Linked DNA regions of Homo sapiens: region 2 is linked to region 1. The links come from fine-mapping of genetic effects on gene expression. A gene starts in region 1. The other region holds a variant in brackets. All regions are shown on one strand. Distances are from middle to middle. Region 1 holds the start of CD320 (CD320 molecule). Region 2 overlaps KANK3 (KN motif and ankyrin repeat domains 3).

Evidence for each region. PIP is the estimated chance that this variant, and not a neighbour inherited with it, causes the effect. A credible set is the group of variants that fine-mapping cannot tell apart.
Region 2: its variant is the best candidate, but not a certain one, in a credible set for the expression of CD320 in whole blood (INTERVAL, PIP 0.71).

What each region holds. Positions count from the first base shown.
Region 1 is chr19:8,304,459-8,314,183 of GRCh38, forward strand. CD320 (CD320 molecule) reads right to left here and starts at 3,900. Exons shown (of 5, transcript NM_016579.4): 1 at 3,691-3,900; 2 at 573-698. The coding sequence starts at 3,832. It overlaps NDUFA7 (NADH:ubiquinone oxidoreductase subunit A7), which reads right to left. Exons shown (of 4, transcript NM_005001.5): 4 at 6,826-7,137. The coding sequence ends at 7,047. RefSeq lists enhancers at 2,663-3,403, 3,390-3,519, 3,404-4,143, 4,199-4,728, 7,483-8,085 and 1 more and silencers at 3,600-3,689, 3,664-4,002.
Region 2 is chr19:8,331,499-8,341,223 of GRCh38, forward strand. KANK3 (KN motif and ankyrin repeat domains 3) reads right to left here. Exons shown (of 11, transcript NM_198471.3): 2 at 6,297-6,358; 3 at 3,002-4,294; 4 at 2,822-2,921; 5 at 2,412-2,618; 6 at 2,226-2,310; 7 at 1,516-1,732. The coding sequence starts at 6,330. Among named protein-coding and RNA genes, the nearest start is that of KANK3, 6.9 kb to the right of the region's middle. RefSeq lists silencers at 3,510-3,609, 3,770-3,959, 3,990-4,039, 4,140-4,399 and an enhancer at 8,772-9,272. The variant CAG/C (reference allele first, on the strand shown) is at 4,570.

The DNA.
Region 1 (9,725 bases):
TAGCCTCCTGACTAGCTGGGATTACAGGGGCCTGCCGCCACATCCAGCTAACTTTTGTATTTTTAGTAGAGATGGGGTTTCACTGTGTTGGCCAGGCTGGTCTCGAACGCCTGACCTCAAGTGATCCGCCTGCCTTGGCCTCCCAAAGTGCTGGGATTACATGTGTGAGCCACCGTACCTGGCTCCCTCCCTCTCTCTTTCCTTCCTTTCTTTCCTTTCTTTCATTTTTCTTTTTTTTTTCTTTTTCTTTTTTTTTCCTGAGACAGTCTTACTCTGTTGCCCAGGCTGGAGTGCACTGGCACAATCCTAGCTCACTGCAGCGGCAACCTCCCAGGATCAAGTGATCGATCCTCCCACCCTAGCCTCCCAAAGTGCTGGGATTGCAGGCGTGAGCCACTGCGCCCAGCCCAAGCCCATCTTAGACCCCGCTTCTTATGACCCACAGACCCAAGTCGCACCCATCCCTGCGGCCCTGCCTTTCCCACAAGCTCCACCTCCGCGTGCCTGGCCCCTGACAAACCACCCTCAGGCCCCGCCCCCTGTAAGCCCCGCCAAGGGGCGTGGCCACTCACTGCACTCCTCCTCATCGCTGCCATCGCTGCAGTCCAAGTCCCTGTCGCAGCGCCAGGTGAGGGGCACGCATAAGCCACTGGTGCGGCACTGGAACTTGGTGGGTGGGCACGAGCCTGAGCTGGGGCCTGCGAGATGGATGCAAATGAAGCCTGGGAAGCTGGAGGCTGGACCTTTCTCCAAGAGCACAGTAGTCACTGGCTGTGATCCGCAGGAGACAGGCGAAGTCCCGGGATATAGGAACCACACTGGCGGCTGCTTGTTACTGAGCCCCTAGTACGAGTGGGGTTCAGAGTGTAGCAGTTCCTGGGCTCAAGAGCCCCACTGGGCAGGTGCTACTGCACTCCCCAGGTTACAGAGAAAGGAACCAAGAGGAGGCCATACAGCTGGTGGCAGAGGCTGGGTGCAGTGGCTCACGCCTGTAATCTCAGCACTTTGGCAGGCCGAGGCAGGTGGATCACTTGAGGTCACGAGTTCGAGACCAGCCTGGCCTACATGGAAACCCCGTCTCTGTTAAAAATACAAAAATTAGCCGGGCGTGGTAGTGCACGCCTGTAATGCCAGCTACTCGGGAGGCTGAAGCATGAGAATCGCTTAAACCTGGGAGATGGAGGTTGCAATGAACCGAAATCATACTGCTGCACTCCAGCCTGGGCGACAGAACGAGACTCCGTCACCACAAAAAAGAAAAAAAAAAGAGCTGGTAGCGGAGTTGGGCTTCGAACTCAGGTCTCGCTGATCCCAGAGTCTTCACCAGGCTCCTCATAGCGAGATGATCTGCCAGGGAGACCTCCAAACTCAGTGGTTAAAGAGACTGAGGGACGGGCCATTTTTCCACATGCCCTGGGTCAGGCTCCCGGGCTCAGGTCAGCAGGGAGGGTCTATCTCCTCTGCGTAGCAAAAGGGAAACTGAGGCAGTGGGTGGGAAACTGAGGCACTGGGTAGAAAATCTGCTCAGTCACCAAGTCCTGTTGCCCCGCCTCCTGAATTCCTCCCAGACCTATCACTCTCCCCATCCTAAATGTGTCAGCTCCTCACCAGAGCCCCAGGCCCCAGGCCCCAAGGTCCATTAGGACACCAGAGACTTGCCTTTCCCTCTCTCCTCCCTACACCCTGTGTTTTCCCCTCAATTTTCAGATCTCAGCTGATTTCCTGGGAGGGTTCTCATGTCCCTCTTGGAGACCTAGGAAGCACTGCCTCCCATGTCTAACAACTGTCCTTAAAGCCCTGGTCATGCCTGTCCACCCACAGACTGGACATTCTGTGGAGGTCAGGGCTGTGACCTGGCCGCCTAAACCCAGGGCAGTGCCTGATTATAAGTGGACACAGGTCACATAAGGGTCCAAGCTGGGTCCAGAGAAGATCCCGGCTGTCCTAGATTCTGAGCAGGGAAGCTCAGCTGCTTGCCGACCTGGAGGGGCACGGAGGGGCCCGCAACCTGGGCCAAGGGACAGAGGAAGGGAGTGGCCTTTACGGCTTCCTCCTGGGTGCGGCCAGGGGAGGTGGCAAATCCGCCACCCTGGCTTAGCTTCACTCTGCCAAGGCCTTTAACCTCTTCCACCTTTACCCACCAGCCATGAGCCTCCAACCCCCCACTCCCCACTGCCAGCCCCTCCTCGGCCTTCAGGCCTAATTGCACCTACTTGCCACAGGGTCCCTGAGCTCTATGGATCCCAGAAGAGCTGTGGACAAACCGGTGCCTGCTTCCTTCCCCGCCCCCGGGAGATCTGGCAGCCTCCAGGTGTGGCTCTCCACCCAGGCGCAGACTTCCACAGCCCTGACACCTCTGACCTCCCTTCGCTGGACTGCGGGAGTGTGTATCCCTCTGCAAAGTGGACAGTAGAGCACAGCAGTCCCCGCCTCATAGGGTGTAAGCCTGACAGGAGTTACAGTGACCAGTGACTTTCTCTCCTGGCCTCAGTTTCCTCACCTGTAAACGGGGTATGCTGGGAATCCCTACCTCAACATCCTGAGAAAAAAGAGACTGTGTATAGAGTTTTGTCCTGTAATCCCAGCACTTTGGGAGGCTGAGGCGGACAGAACACTTGAGGTCAGGAGTTCGAGACCAGTCTGGCCAACATGGTGAAACCCCATCTCTACTAAAAATACAAAAATTAGCCGGGCATGGTGACGGTGCCTGTAGTCCCAAGCTACTCGGGAGGCTGAGGCATGAGAATTGCTTAAACCCGGGAGGCGGAGGGTGCAGTGAGCCAACATTGCACTGCACTCCAGCCAGGGCGACAGAGGGAGACTCAAAAAAAAAAAAACAAAAACTTTTGTACTTGGTTAACGTGAACGCTGCCTCCTTAAAAAAAAACAAACAAAAAAAAACCCAGGAACATTTAACGTGAATGTCAGGGACTTTGGGATGAGTCCAGGGACCTAGAAGTGCGGAATGCACAAAGGAGCTGGGAAAGTGTGTGAGCCTGAGCCCAGGGCTGCAAGTTGGGAGTGCCTGAGTGCACAGGGAGGCCACTCCAACCCTCCAGCTGCCTCTAGGGGTATCAGAGAGGGAGCCCGTCCCCACTGGCCACCAATACCTCTTAGGCCAGGGCGAACACGTCCACGGGGGTATATTCAACTTGTGACCCCAGTCTCTGCGAGAGCCTGCAGTAGCATGGGGGGGAGAGACCTCGCGTTCTCTAAGGATGGAGGACAAAGGAGGAGAGACTGGGAGGGCAGGGACGGTTGCGGAACGGTCACAAGGCCTGGGCGCGAGGGTTTGGAAGGCAAAGGTGCGAGAGGCACCAGGTGACCCGTCCTGCGTGATTAGCGGTCGGACAATCTGAGCCTGCTAAGAGCTTTCCTGACCACGCTGGTATGAAGGGCGGCTTGGAGGTGACAATGGGGGACGACAGGGCACAGCAGGTGTGGAGACGGTGTGCAGGGCCGGAGCAAAACCGTTAAAGGCAGGTGGAGACACCCTCCTCCCCTCCCCCAGCATGGGGTCTTCCTAGCACCAGTGCGCGCCTTCCCACAAGCGATGAAGTCCAAGTCCACGTGCTGGGGGAGTGTCATGAACTGACGTGCGGTGCAGCCAGTGACTAGGCGTTGTCGGTGCGCGGCGGCGGGGCGAAGCCTCGCGAGGGGTGGGAGCCCGCGCTGCGGGGCGTCACTCACCTGCGGCCTGGGCAGAGGTCGGGGTGGAAAGCGGGCTCGCGGCGGCCTCCAGGCCTAGTCCGAGGCCGAGCAGCAGCAGCAGCGCCAGGCCCAGAGCCCCTGTTCGCCACGCTCCAACCTGCGCCATCCAACCGCCGCTCATGCTGTCCCCACAGCGGCGCCGGCCACGCGCTGTCCAGACCGCTCTCTTATCCCTGCGCACGCGCACGCGCGGGGTTGGGGCGGGGCCCAAGCCCCTGAGTTCTGCGGCGCCCGCGGCTACGCGTACCGTAAATGTCAGAATAGCAGGGAAAAGAGAATTAGAGGCCCGTCCCCACTTTCCCCAGTGACCAGATCAGTTGAAAGGTATGGAGCCCGCTTGAAGTTAGAAACTTCTGGGGATGGGAAGGAATTTGTTGGTGTTCATTTGCATTATTTCCCGTTCCAAATGAGGACTGCTGCAAATGTTACTGCCTCGTGATCTTCTTTAATATGGCAGCCACGCCCCTCAGGCACTCCGCATTTCCTCCCTCATCCCACTGCTTTTGTGGCGCCGACAGGTAATTTATTTTATTTACTTATTCTGGTTTGTTGTCCGAGTCCCCATAGAATGCTAGCTACTGGAGGGCAGGGATCTTCTGTTGCTCACTGCTTTATTCTCAGGATCTGACACATAGTGCTTGACTCATAGTAGGCTCTTAGTAAACATTTGGTGAGTAAATGAATAAATGAAACGTCCATTCTCGGAGTCGGGTTGCTTGGGGGGGAAAAAGGAAAGGAAATCAATTAATTAATTAAATTTAATAATAAAGGCCGGGCGCGGTGGGTCACGTGTGTGATCCCAGCATTTTGGGAAGCAGAGGCGGGCAGATCGCTTGAGCCCAGGAGTTCGAGATCAGCCTGGGCAACACAGCAAGTCCCCGCCCGCCTCAAGAAAAAAGAAAATTAGCTGGGCATGGTGGCTCTAATTTGTAGTCCCAGCTACTCAGGAGGCTGAGGTGGGAGAATCACTTGGGGCTGCACTCCAGCGTGGGTGACAGTGAGACCCCATTTGTTAGAAAAGTTGGCCGGCGCGCTGGCTCACGCCTGTTAACCCCAGCACTTTGGGAGGCCGAGGCAGGCGGATCACGAGGTCAGGAGTTCTAAACCAGCCTGGCCAACATAGTAAAACTCCCGTCTCTACCAAAAATACAAAAATTAGCCGGGTGTGGTAACATGCTCCTGTAGTCCCAGCTACTAGGGAGGCTGAGATGGGAGAATCGCTTGAACCCGGGAGGCGGAGGTTGCAGTGCGCCGAGACCACATCATTGAACTCCAGCCTGGGTGACAGAGTGAGACTCTGTCTCAAAAAAAAAAAAAAGTTGTGGTCATAAAACTTGGTTCAGATGCCGTCAGCGGCATGCCTTGCCTAGGGTCTTGCCCTCCTTGTGGCCTCTGCACACCCTGCCTAGTCTTTCCTTCCCTCCTGACCTTTCTGAATCTGATTCATCCTTTTGCCCCAAGCAGAATCCCACCTTCTCCAGGAAGGTGTTAGCCTTTGTAGGACCCACTCTGGGACACTGGTACCTGCTGCCTGTAGCCGTGGCCTTTCCCCTTCCAGAGGGCAGGGCGGTCTCAGCACCCTCTTGGTCCACAGCTGATCTTTTTTAGCTGCTGAAGGGTCTGGGGCTGTGCCCTGGGGAAGCCATGACACTCCCCTGCGTAGGGTCACTGGGTGGCTCCTGCAGCCAGACTTGGACACCCTCCCTTTGCAGATTTCTGTCTCCTCCCCAGGAACCAGCTGCCTTCCTTCTGGGGCGAATTCATTCTTATCCCACAGCCCCAGCATAATGGGATCTGGCTCAGGGAGGCCTTTCCTGATCTGCCCTAGGTTTGCCTTCCCTGTGAGCAGCCCTTACTGTCCTCTGCCTTCCCCGTTGAGCTGCAGGGTGACCATGGTCAAGCAGGAGCCTCAGTGGGAAGGTGCTGAGGAAGGTTCATGTGAGAAGTGGCTGTGGGAGCCCTCAAGAGATGGAAGTTAGGCCAGGCGCGGTGGCTCACGCCTGTAATCCCAACACTTCGGGAGGCAGAGGTGGGCGGATCACTTGAGGTCAGGAGTTTGAGACCAGCCTGGCCAACATGGCGAAACCCCGTCTCTACTAAAAATACAAAAATTAGCTGGGCTTGTGGCAGGCGCCTGTAATCCCAGCTACTCGGGAGGCTGAGGCAAGAGAATCACTTGAACCCAGGAGGCAGAGGTTATAGTGAGCCGTGATCGCGCCATTGTACTCTAGCCTGGGCAACAAGAGCGAAACTCTGTCTCAAAAAAAAAAAAGAAGTGAGAAGTCTGTGGCTGGCCTACTGAGTGTCCGCACATACACCCCTTACCCCACCTGACTGGTCTTCACAATCAATGCTCCCCAACAGCCAGCGGTCCTGGGAGTCCAACCTCCCAGAAGGATCACCCACTCCCACCACTCTCAAGGTCAGAGCCTGGCCTTTGGGGGAAAGGGCAGTGCTGTCTCCAGGGCCTCTGCACCCAGGGACAGTGTCTGTCCCACCCCTGGAGTGCCAACAGAGTTGGGAGACTCAGCACTGACTTCACCCCAAAATCCAAGTAAGCTGGGTATTGCTTAAAATCAGGGGCCAGGCGTGGTGGCTCACACCTGTAATCCCAACACTTTGGGAGGCCAAGGCGGGCGGATCACCTGAGGTCAGGAATTTGAGACCAGCCTGGCCATCTCTACAAAAAAAAAAAAAAATTAGCGGGTATGGTGGTGCACACCCGTAGTCCCAGCTACTCGGGAGGCTGAGGCAGAATTGCTTGAGCCCAGGAGGCAGAGGTTGCAGTGACCTGAGATCGTGCCGTTGCGTTCCAGCCTGGGTGACAAGCGCGAAAACTCTGGCTCCTGCAGCCAGATTTCTATCTCCTCCCCAGGAACCAGCTGCCTTCCTTCTGGAGCTAACTCATTCTCATCCCACAGCCCCAGCATAATGGTTTCTGGCTCAGGGAGGCCTTTCCTGATCTGCCCTAGGTCTGCCTTCCCTGTAAGCAGCCCTCACTGTCCTTTGCCTTCCCCGTTGAGCTACAGGGTGACCAAGGTCAAGCAGAGGCCTCAGTGGGAAGGTCTAAAAAATAAAAATAAAATCAGGCCAGGTGTGGTGGCTCATGCCTGTAATCCCAGCACTTTGGGAGGTCAAGGCAGGAGGATCGCTTGAGGCCAGGAGTTCAAGATCAGCCTGGGAAACATGGTGAGACTCTGTCTCTATTTTTTTATTTTTTAAAGTAAAACTAGAAGTGATACCTGAGCTCTACGTATTTGTCATAAATTAGGTCACATTCTCCCTGGAGGAAATCCAAGGAGGCAAAGTAGTCGGGTGGCCGTGAGGGTGCAGTGTCACAGGTAAGGCTGGTCCGAGGACAGCTCCCACCTCTTTATGGGAGGAGCTGGAGTCACCGCCTTCTTCTCAGTGGCAGCTACAGCAGAGCTGGAGGAGGGAAAGACTTCAGTGAGGGTTTCCAAAGAACAGTGTGGAAAGATCTGAGGGAGCCCACACCTGCCCCGGGACAAACACACCCACAGGGACTTTCTGGACCTGCAGGACAGACAGCAGGGTGTTCCAGAATGCCAACCCCTCCAACGCAGCCCCTCAGAGGATCAGCCAACGCCAGGTGGGAGCTAGCAAGCCTCCTCTCTCCCCTGAGCCCTGTATGAACCCCCTGCTGTGGCCCCCAGGCCCAGAACCCACTGTGGAGAGCTGGGCTCCTCCCTTCCCACTTTTGGTCTCCAGCGTACACAAGGCCCCCACCCCCATTCCTGCTGCCCCTCAAAACAGGATGCTGGCAAAAGGGCCAAGCGATCAGGTGACAATGGCCTCCAGCTATTCCTGCCTCAGACTGGGCAAGAACTGCATGGCAGGCGCTACTGTGTGGGCGCAGAGCCAGGAAGATGGGGCACCGCCCTCAGGAAGACTCAGGCTGGTGGGGCTGAGAATCCATGCGCAAATGGCAACTGCAAAACGCATCTCTGGCCCAGAGCTGGCCAAGAGGGAGCCCCCAGGAGACCCTGTGCCGGCAAGTCCAGGACGAGCACCCTCCCCTCTCACCCCACCCACCTGAGCCTGTGGAGCTCACACACTTCACAGCCTAAGCAAGAAAGGAAGCAGGAGGGTGGGGTGATGGAGGAGGCGCCCCAGGGGTGGAGGCACAGGACCTCCCAGGAGCCTCAAGGAAATGGAAAAGGCAGAAGTGGCCTCCCTGGGAAATGCACACATCTCTGGGGGCATGGCAAGGGGCTGTGTGGGAACAAGGTATCTTGCCACACTCTGGTGCTGGACTCCAGTGAATCAGAAGGTGACAACAAGGACCACTCCACTGAGTTCCTTCTTTTTGAGACAGACTCTTGCTCTGTCACCCAGGCTGGTGTGCAGTGGCACAATCTCAGTTCACTGCAACGTCCGCCTCCCAGGCTTGAGTGATTCTCTTGCCTCAGCCTCCCAAGTAACTGGGATTACAGGTGTGCACCATCACTCCCGGCTAATTTTTGTATTTTCTTTCTTGTTTATTATTTATGAGACAGGGTCTCACTTTGTCACCCAGGCTGGAGTGCAGTGGCGCAATCTCAGCTCAGTGAAGCTTCCTCGACCTCCCAGGTTCAAGAGATCCTTCTGCCTCAGCCCTTCAAGTAGCTGGGCCTACGGGTGCACACCACCACACCCGGCTAATTTTTGTATTTTTTGTAGAGATGGGGTTTCCCCATGCTGCTCAGGCTGGTCTTGAACTTCTGGGCTCAAGCGATCCACCCGCCTCGGCCTCCCAAAGTGCTGAGATTACAGGCGAGAGCCACAGCGCCCCTAACTTTTGTATTTCAGTAGAGGCAGGGTTTCGCCCTGTTGGCCAGGCTGGTGTCGATCTCCTGACCCCTAGTGATCCTCTCACCTCGGCCTCCCAAAGTGCTGGGATTACAGGCGTGAGCTACCATGCCCAGCCTAAAAAATTTCTAATAGAGACGGGGTCTCGCTGTGTTACTCAAACAAGTCTAGAACTCAAGCAATCCTCACACCTCAGCTTCCCGAGTCACTGGGATTACAGGCACACACCACTGCGCCTGGCCTATTCACAGAGTTCTTTTTTTTTTTTTTGAGACAGAGTCTCACTCTGTCACCCAGGCTGGAGTGCAGTGGCGCGATCTCAGTGAGCTGCAAGCTCCGCCTCCCGGGTTCACACCACTCTCCTGCCTCAGCCTCCCGAATAGCTGGGACTACAGGCGCCCACCACCACACCTGGCTAATTTTTTGTATTTTTAGTACAGACAGGGTTTCAACATGTTAGCCACGATGGTCTCGATCTCCTGACCTGGTGATCCGCCCTCCCCGGCCTCCCAAAGTGCTGGGATTACAGGCGTGAGCCACCGCGCCCAGACCTCACAGAGTTTTAAGTACAGAGCAGGCCCTGCCTGACCTCATCACCTCCCAGATCTCAGCACACTGCAAGTCTAGCATCCCTATTTTATATGTGAAGAAACCAAGGCTCAAGAAGGCTGAGGGACTGCCCACACCGTGAGTTGGCTGTAGAGCCCAGACCCCAACAGGAGTCCAGGAAAACTGGTTTGAAATCCTGCTTCTGCTTACTGCTGCCTGTGTGGCCCAGGCCAGTCACTTGGCTTCTGTGAGCCTCGATTTCCTCTTCTGCAAGAGGGGTCATCACCATCTAACTGGTGGAGTTATTAGGAGGTAGGCAGGACACTGACTCTGTGCCAGGCTCCAAGAGTTTACAAATATTAATTATGAGGACTAACCCTCGTAACAGCTTTCTGAAGTAGATGCTATTAGAGTCCCCATTTAATTAAGAGAAGACACCTGAAACCAGGGACCAAACTGCTTTTTGAGAGGAGCCCAAGGTTTATACACTTCTGTCTCTGAGAAGAATACATGGCTGGGCATGGTGGCTCACACCTGTAATTCCAGCACTTTGGGAGGCCGAGGCCAGAGGATCACATGAGGTCAGGAGTTCAAGACCGGCCTGACCAACATGGTGAAACCCCATCTCTACTAAAAATACAAAATTAGCCTGGCAT
Region 2 (9,725 bases), 27 kb after region 1:
GTTAGTACCAGAGGTGCCCAAAGGCTGACTCAGAGGTTTCTGAACCTGCAGGAGGGTACCTGGAGGGAGGGGGCTCCTGGTGGACAGCGATTTGTTTACCACCCACCAGACCCTTTGTGCCCAGTTTATCAGGGCAAGCAGCTGGAGGTGGGTGGGGCACAGTGCCCCATCCCAGGAGGAGTCAGAGCCCTGCCTGGTGAGTACCTCCCCTCCAGGCTGGACACTGGGGCTCAGGAACTCGGTGAGTGCTCCAGCTGGAGATTCAGGGACAGAGCACATGCTGGCCATTTACTGATCTCGTACTACCTGTATTATCATAGGTACCCAGGGAGGGAGGCCTTGCCAACCCCATTTCACAAGCAAGATTAAATAATGCCCCTAAACTGAGGTTTACCTAAGTCCAGAACTGTGTATTCCCTCCAGCTGCAAAGTAGGAGGAGCCTCAGGGCAGAACTAGGGGTATGGTGGGGCCAAAAGGCCTCTTTTTTTTTTTTTTTTTTTTTTTTTTTTTGAGATGGAGTCTTGCATTGTGGCCCAGGCTGGAGTGCAGTGGTGCTCACTCTTGGCTTACTGCAACCTCTGCCTCCTGGGTTCAAGTAATCCTCGCACCTCAGCCTCCCGAATAGCTGGGATTACAGGTTCCCACCACCACGCCCAGCTAGTTTCTGCTTTTTTGTTTTGTTTTGTTTTTGTTTCTGAGACTGAGCCTCACTCTGTCGCCCAGGCTGGAGTGCAGTAGCACGATCTCAGCTCACTGCAACCTCTGCCTCCCAGGTTCAAGCAATTCTCGTGCCTCAGCCTCCTGAGTAGCTGGAATTACAGGCATGTACCACCACACCCAGCTAATTTTTGTATTTTTAGTAGAGATGGGGTTTTGCCATGTTGGCCAGGCCGGTCTCGAACTCCTGACCTCAAGTGATCTGCCCACCTCGGCCTCCCAAAGTGCTGGGGTTAAAGGCATGAGCCACCATGCCTGGCTCAGAGGGCAGAAGGCCTTTGGGAACCCAGACAGGAAGAGGTTTAAAACCCAAGGAGGTTGGCTGGGCGCAGTGGCTCAGGCCTGTAATCCCAGCACTTTGGGAGGCCGGGGCAGGCAGATCACGAGGTCAGGAGATCAAGACCATCCTGGCCAACATGGTGAAACCCCGTCTCCACTAAAAATACAAAAATTAGCTGGGCATGGTGGCGCACATCTGTAGTCCCAGCTACTCGGGAGGCTGAGGCAGGAGAATCGCTTGAACCTGGGAGGCGGAGGTTGCAGTGAGCCGAGATCGCGCCACTGCACTCCTGCCTGGTGACAGTGTGAAACTCCGTCTCAAAAATAAAATAAAATAAAATAAAATAAAATAAAATAATAAAATTAAAATAAAATAAAATAAACTCAAGGAGGAGTGGTGCCCTGTGCTGGACAGCCATTCTCTGCTTTCCTCTCCAGAGTCTTTGAGCCTAGGTCAGCCCCTGCCCTCTCCCCCCACCCATTTCCTGGTGTCCCACCCACCCTCCCTTGGCTCTGACCCGTATCCAGGAGCAGGCTTGCGATGGCCAGGTTCCCGTGGGACACACTGTAGTGCAGGGCCGTGTTCCCGTTGCCATCCGCCAGGTTCACCACGTGCGCCAGCAGTTCGGGTCCCAGGCGCCTCACCCCTTCCAGCATCCTGGCCACGGGCTCCGCCTGAGAGCGCCGCTGGCTGGACACTCGAAACCACTCCTGGGCCACGAGGCGCACTGCGCCCTGCAAGGGACAGGGGCCAAGATAACATCGGCGATGGTCCACGGCGGCGCCGTGGTGGGGGAGCTGGGGAGGGGCGGGACTGGGAAGAGACCCATTTGGCGTTTCCAGGCAAGTAAGGAAGGTCACTCCTCGTCCAGGTGGGGAGCCATGCGAACCCAGATGGAGGGCTGGGGCCACACCCCTATCGGAGGGCAAACACGGGGGAAGGGGGTCCTTTCCTTCCAGGGAAGAATTTGCGGGAGAACATGGAACGGGGAAAGGCAATGAACGCTTGCCCTTGGGGAGTCCGGGAGTGGGGCTGGGGCCGGGCCTTTTTGGGGAAACCAAGGAAAGATCGGCGCTGTCCTGGGAAGGAGATCCCTTCGGAGAGCCTGGGGTCAGGCGAGGTGCCTGGCGGGAAGGGATGGAACCCGGTGTGCTCCCCTAAGTGGGCGTCAGAGGTCCTTGGAGGCTCCCACGCCACTCCCTGGTGCTGCGCTCCCGGGGCACTCACGCCGTCGCTGGCTACTCCGCGGGGCCGGCTCAGCTGCCGCTGCAGCGCTACGCACGCCTCCCTCAGACGCGGGCTCAGCTCGCACCTGCAGAGGAGGCCAGGAGAGACTCAGGATGGATCGGGGACAGCGCCGACCAGGAGGAGGGCAGCCGCCTCCTCTCCAAACAACTAGCGAGCGCCGCTCACCTCCCCTGTGCCACCTGCTGAGGCTCTGCCTCCGCCTCGGGCTCAGGGTCCCGGATGTCCCCGCCGCTGGGAGGGCCAGGGGTGCCCGAGTCGGATCCCCCGCCGCTGTCATCCCCGGAGCCCGAGGAGCTACCCGGGGGCTCGGCGCCACCGTTCTCGCTGTCGCCATCGCTGTCGCTGGCGTCCTCGCTGGAGGAGCTCTCGTACCTGGGGGCAGGGTGGGAGGTGTCTGCTAAACCTCCCCTGTGGGCTCGTTCTGGAGTCCTGCGATGTGGGTGTGGCCGTTCCCATTTAACGATGAGGAAACTGAGGATTGCCCAGACCACGCTGCCAGTAGAGGGGCAGAGCTGGGGTTCCAACCCCAGTCTATGTCCCGGCAGAAGCTGCCACAGGAGGGGAAAGGCGCTCACTCTCCGTTGAGGACCCCAACAAACTGCAGGCTCTTGGGTCCGGAGCTGGGTTGGGCACCAGGTGTGCCGTCTCTCTTCTTCATGATGGATTTGAGGATGCCTGGCGGGGATGAGATGAGGGCACTGAGTTCGAGTCCGGCGCCGAGTAAGCCAGGGCCCAGCGACGGGGTCGGGACTCACCCGCGGGCGCCACGGCCCTGTCTCCGTCCATGGATCCGGGCGAGCTCTCCTGAGTCAAGGAGGGCGCCTCTGCCGGGGACTCGGTCTGCGCGGCCTTTTCGGCACAGCTCCACGGGGTCTGGGTGGTGGCCTCGCGTAGCTGGGCCCGGGCCCCCGCCGCTGCCTCCTCCGCAGCCTCGCGGGCTTCCTCCAGCTCCCGCAACCGGCCCCGCAGAAGCTCACTCACCCCGCGCTGGTGCTCCAGACTGGCGCGCAGCAGCTCTAGCTCGCGCTCGGCGGCCGCAGGCAGCCCCAGCAGCGCCTCGGTCACCCACGCGTCCGCCTCCACGGTCTCGGGGGCAGCCTCCACGCCGGCCTCCCGGGTCTCCGGCACGGCCTGGGCACCCGCTTCTCGGGTCTCGGGCACGGCCTCGGCGGCCACCTCCCGGGTCTGGGGCGTCCCATCGAGACTCCCGACCTCCCCGTCGAGGACCTGGAGCGCGCCCTCGCTGCGCCCTGCAGCCAGGCCGTCTGGGCTGTCAGCCCGGGGGCTGGCCCTGGCACGGCCGCCGCGCTCGGAGGTGGCCAGGCGCTCGGTGAGCCGCCGCAGCTGGGCGAGCTTGTCCGGGCGCGTCTCAGCCTCCCCGTCCGGCTCGGGCTGCGCGCGCCCGGCCAGCAGCCGCGCCTTCTCGGCGCGCAGCGCGCGCACCTGCTCCTGCAGCTCGGGCAGCGTTCGCGCCTGGTCCTCGAGCTCGCGCAGGCGCCGCAGCGCCGCGGCCATCTGCTCGCGCACCAGCTGCAGTTGGGCAGGGCCGGGCGAAGCAGGGGCAAGGTTAGGGGCGGGGCTGCTGCGGCCGGACCCGCGTGGGCTGCGCGGGACCCCGCGGCCGGGGCTGGGCGCGCGCTCGTGTGTCTGCGCCAGCTCCAGCCGCCGGCTGGTCTCCCGGAGCGTGTGCTCGACGCGCGGGTTGCGCACGGGCGCGCGCGGCGACAGCGGCTGCATCAGGAGCCCCGAGGGCGCGCCCTGGGAGAGTATGCCCGGTGCTCCACCGTCGTCACTGGCCAGGGACTCGCTGGATGTCCAGGCGCCTGGGCTACGTGCGCCCGCGAGGCCGGGCCGGGGCGCGCGGGGACGGCGCGAGGTCGGGGGTCCCGGGGCGCGGCGGGCAGCGGGGCCACGCTCCAGCTCCTCTATGTACTTGAGGAAGTCCAGGTCCAGGTGGAAGCCGTAGGGCGTCTCCACCGAGTAGGGCGAGCTCGGGCTGCGTGCGCCCCCGGCGGCGGGGACCGGGCACAGGCGGGGGCCGCCCAGGTCTGGAGGCACGACGGGGGCACGGGGAGGGCGCATCAGAACGGGGAAACCCGGGAGATACTAAACAAACCGAGCGTGTCCCCCACCCATGCCCACGCTTCACACCTATCTGTACCCAAGTATTAACTCAATCGCTTGTTTAATGAGCACCTACTCTGTGCTAAGCAAGTTTCTAGGCCCGGGGGACACAGCAGTGAGCAAGACAAACATCCCTGTCCTCCTGTAGAAAGCAGATAAGCATCCTTCCAAACGATGCCTACGGCAATGGTAATAATAA[CAG/C]GGAATAAACGGAGGAGGCCCGATTTAGCGTTTGGTTGCCAGGGAAGCTTTCCTGTGAGGGGACTTTCCTGTGGAGTGGAGCCCTGGCCCGGCGTGTGGTTCGCGCCTGTAGTCGCAGCATTTTGGGAGGCCGGCACAGGCGGATCACCTGAGGTCAGGAGTTCCAGACCAGCCTGGCCAACATGGTGAAACCCAGTATCTGCTAAAAATACGAAAATTAGCTGGGCGGTAGTGGCGCGCGCCTGTAATCCCAGCTACTCCGGAAGCTGAGGCAGGAGAATCACTTGATCCTGGTAGGCGGAGTTTGAGGTGAGCCGAGATCGCACCAATGCACTCCAGCCTGGGCGACAGAAGAGAACCTCTCAAAAAAAAAAAAAAGTAGCCCTGGCCGGGCGCAGTGGCTCACGCCTCTATCTCAACACTTTGGGAGGCCGAGGCGGGTGGATCGCTAGAGCTTAGGAGTTCGAGACAAACCTGGGCAACAAAGTGAGACCCCATCTCCAAAAATATATATATACACATATACATATATATACATAGCTGTGCATAATGGTGAGCTACTCAGGAGGCTGAGGTGGGAGGATCACTTGAGCCTGGGAGGCAGAGGTTGCAGTGAGCCGAGATTGCACCACTGCACTCCAGACTGGGTGACAGAGTGAGACCCTGTCTCAAAAAAAAAAAAAAAAAGGTTGGCGAGGGGAAGCCCTGCACGATGAGGAGGAAGCAGCTGGGAAAAGGTTTCTAGAAGAAAACAGCCCATGGAAATACCCTGGGGTAGGAGGGAGGAGGGTCAGCTGGAGTCACAGCGAGATGGAGACCAGGGTGTCCCGAGCAGAGTAAAGAAGGCAGGGGGAAGAGGAATGGACGCACAAGGGCCACACTTCCCTGGTTTGAGGGCTACCTGGGGTGGCAGGGGGTATAGTCCACTTGCGATTAGTGCCATAGGTGGGGTGTTTTTTGTTTTGTTTTTTTCTTTTTTTTGAGACGGAGTCTTGCTCTGTTGCCCAGACTGGAGTGCTGTAGTGCGATCTTGGCTCATTGCAGCCTCTGCCTCCCAGGTTCCAGCAATTCTCCTGCCTCAGCCTCCTGAGTAGCTGGGACTACAGGCACGCGCCACCATGCCTGGCTAATTTTTTTTTTTTTTTTTTTTTTGAGACGCAGTCTCGCTCTGTCGCCCAGGCTGGAGTGCAGTGGCACAATCTCTGCTCACTGCAAGCTCCGCCTCCCGGGTTCAAGCCATTCTCCTGCCTCAGCCTCCCGAGTAGCTGGGACTACAGGGGCACCACCATGCCCGGCTAATTTTTTGTATTTTTAGTAGAGATGGGATTTCACCGTGTTAGCCAGGATGGTCTTGACCTCCTGACCTTGTGATCTGCCCGCCTCGGCCTCCCAAAGTGCTGGGATTACAGGCATGAGTCACCACACCGAGCCGTGCCTGGCTAATTTTTGTATTTTTAGTAGAGACAGGGTTTCACCATGTTGCCCAGGCTGGTCTCAAACTCCTGATCTCAAGTGATCCGCCCACCGTGGCCTCCCAAAGTGCTGGGATTACAGGCATGAGCCACCGCACCCGGCCATGATTGATGCCATAGGTGGTTTAAAGCAGGCTCATGACATTGGAGAGGACTGCACTCTAGGGCTGTAGGCTGCGTCCACACACAAGGGCATCAAGCGTTTCTCTGTGCATGCGCACACACACACACATCTCTCTTTTTGCACACTCACCGGGCAGGTTCTGATTCAGGGCAAACTTGGCCATGTTTCCTGCAGCAGCTGTCAGAGGCACCCTGCAAAAGGGGTGAAGGTGGGGCTGGGCGCTGTCCCTCTGGCTGGAGCCTCTGGGGCCTGCCTTTGAGTCTAAGCAAACAGGACCCAAGAGCTCTCCTCCACCCAGCCACCTCCCTCCACACATGGCCTCTCCTTCCTCTTCCCTAAAGAAACCTTGAAACTTTTTTTTTTTTTTTTTTTTTGGGACAGAGTCTCGCTCTGTCACCCAGGCTGGAGTGCAATGCCACAATCTCGGCTCATTGCAGCCTCCCCCTCCCGGGTTCAAGTGAATCTCCTGCCTCAGCCTCCCAAGTGGCTGGGATTACAGGTGCCCACCACCACGCCTGGCTAATTTTTGTATTTTTGGTAGAGATGAGGTTTCACCATGTTGGCCAGGCTGGTCTCGAACTCCTGACCTCAAGTTATCCGCCTGCCTCGACCTCCCAAAGTACTGGGATTATAGGCATGAGCCACCGTGCCTAGCCGACCTTGAAACTTTGGATGGAATGAATGATCCCCAGGTGTCAGATGTCAGCCTGCTGGGCAGGAGGAAGCAGGAAAGACATCAAGCAAAAAGAAGAAGGTGACCAAGAAAACAAGGGTAGCTGGGAGTTGGGGAGGCATTCCAGACCTGCTGGGTTTTCTGATAATCTCTGGGGAAAATCAGAAATGGACGCTCTATGTAGTGGACTATGAGCCTTTAGGAAAGAAAGACCAGAGTTGGAAGCCCTTCACAGGATCATTAAAAACTCATCTAGGCTGGGCGCGGTGGCTCACGCCTGTAATCCCAGCACTTTGGGAGGCCGAGGAGGGCGGATCATGAGGTCAGGAGATCGAGACCATCCTGGTTAACACGGTGAAACCCCATCTCTACTAAAAATATAAAAAAGTAGCCGGGCGTGGTGGCAGGCGCCTGTAGTCCCAGCTACTCGGGAGGCTGAGGCAGGAGAATGGCGTGAACCCGGGAGGCGGAGCTTGCAGTGAGCTGAGGTGGCGCCACTGCACTTCAGCCTGGCAACAGAGCGAGATTCCGTCTCAAAAAAAAAAAAAAAAAAAAAAAAAAGGATGTAATTGTGCATCCAAATTTTTACCAAGGTCAGTTGTGAAACTCTTGCAGGAATGATGGGGAATTGCGGGCTGGATGCACCAAAGATCCAAATCAACAAATCAACGGATACTTGTCTCCCTGGAATGTCGCTAGCGGAGTGTCACAGGCTTGATCCTTGGCTTGTAAGAGTTTGTAATGCAAACACAAAACACCTGGGTTGTCAGAGCTGTGACTATTCATGGGGCTGCCTGGGAAAGTGACTGTTTGGATGACATGATGGAGGCTGTAAGAAAGTGAGGAAGATTGGGCCACATATAATAATGTGATATTTAACAAGGACAAATATTGAATCCAGAACTTTGGTTCAAAAAGCACAGGGTGAAATCTCAGCACTCTGGGAAGCCAAAGCAGAAGGATCGCTTGAGCCTAGGAGTCAAGACCCACCTGCGCAACATAGCGAGACCCTATCTCTTTTTGTTTTTTTTTTTTTTTGAGACAGAATTTCCCTCTTGTTGCCCAGGCTAGAGTGCAGTGGCACAATCTTGGCTCACTGCAACCTCTGCCTCCTGGGTTCAAGTGATTCTCCTGCCTCAGCCTCCTGAGTAGCTGGGATTACAGCCACTGCTACTATACCTGGCTAATTTTTTGTATTTTTAGTAGAGATAGGGTTTCATCATGTTGGCCAGGCTGGTCTCGAACTCCTGACCTCAGGTGATCCACCCACCTCGGCATCCCAAAGTGCTGGGATTACAGGCATGAGCCAAGGTGCCTGGCCACTATCTCTTTTGTTTGTTTGTTTTTAAATAGTGAAACCACCAAGCACAGTGGCTCACAAGCCATTGCTCTCCAGCCTGGGCAACAAGAGCGAAGCTCTGTCTCTAAATAAATAAATAAAATAGCGAAACCCCATCTCTACAAAAAACACAAAAATTAGCTGGATGTGTTGGCATGCACCTGTAGTCCCAGCTACTCAAGAAGCTGAGGCAGGAGTATCTCTTGAGTCCAGGAGATGCAGGCTGCAGTGAGTTATGATCATGCCACTGCATTCCAGCCTGGTTGACAGAGCAAGACCTTGTCTCAAAAAAAAAAAAAAAAAAAAAGAAAAGAAAAGAAAAGAAAAGCACAGGAACATGGAGTGGGAAAGATGGGCTTTGGAAAGCCCACATGGAAAACCTTCAGGGAGGGGAAAGTGCCTACGGTGTGCCCTTCCTGATTAAATGTCATCGCCATAGCTGGACACAATGGTGCATGCCTGTAGTCCCAGCTACTCAGGAGGCTGAGGCAGGAGAATCGCTTGAACCTGGGAGGCAGAGGTTGCAGTGAGCTGAGATCATGCCACTGCACTCCAGCCTGGGGGACAGAGCCAGACTCCGTCTCAAAAAAAAAAAACCATATATATATATATATACACACACACACACACACACACACACACAGCCCCCATACAACACTTTGCATACTGCAAAGTAGTATTATTATTCATATTTTACAGATGGAGAAACTGAGGCACAGAACAATTAAATCAGTTGCCTGTGGGAAGCACCCTCAGATTGGGCTCTGCCCATCTGCGGAACCCTTGTCAGCAGGTCCCTGCCACAGCTTCTGACTGCCCTTTACCTGTCCAGTCCTCCACTGACAGGCATCTGCCAAACCCACTTCATCCTCTCCCTGGGCCACGGCCCGTCTGTGCTAACCACATGGCAACACTCCCAGCCACCCCTTCTGGCTTCTCGAATCCCTGGGACCACCTGTGTGCCTGATGCTATGAAGCACTGAGCACCCACCAGCCCTCCTGACTCATTACCCTACTCCACCGCTGGGGAAACCGTAACTCCATTTCCCACTTCTGTCTGGCCGAGGTCCCTGACCTCTCCCTTCCCACTCCAAGGCCAGGCAGGGGGCCTCTTCCAGTCCCCAAGCAGCTGTTTCCCGTCCCTTCACACCAGCTGCAAGGGGTGGATCAACAGGCCAGCGGGTCATCGCAGAGGACAGCCAATGCCGTTCATCACTTGTTTTCAGGAAATTGCCAGGGAAGAACTGGGTTGTGGAAAAAGTCCAGATCAAGGGTTGGGGGGTCTGGGTCTACTTCTCACACAGCTGGCCGTATGACGCAATGGGGTCAGCGTCCTCCTCCGGTGACCTGGTCACACCCAAATCCCAGGCCCTGGGATCTCAGAAGACAGCTGTGGGCCATTCCTAAGACCTAAACTAGCTGAAGCAGTTGGATCCAGAGGCTGGGCTAAGAAAGGAATGGATCCCTCCAGAATGTCAAATAATAACAACGCTTTTGATATTTACTATGGGCCAGCCTCTAGTCTAAGGAATTTATGGATATTTAC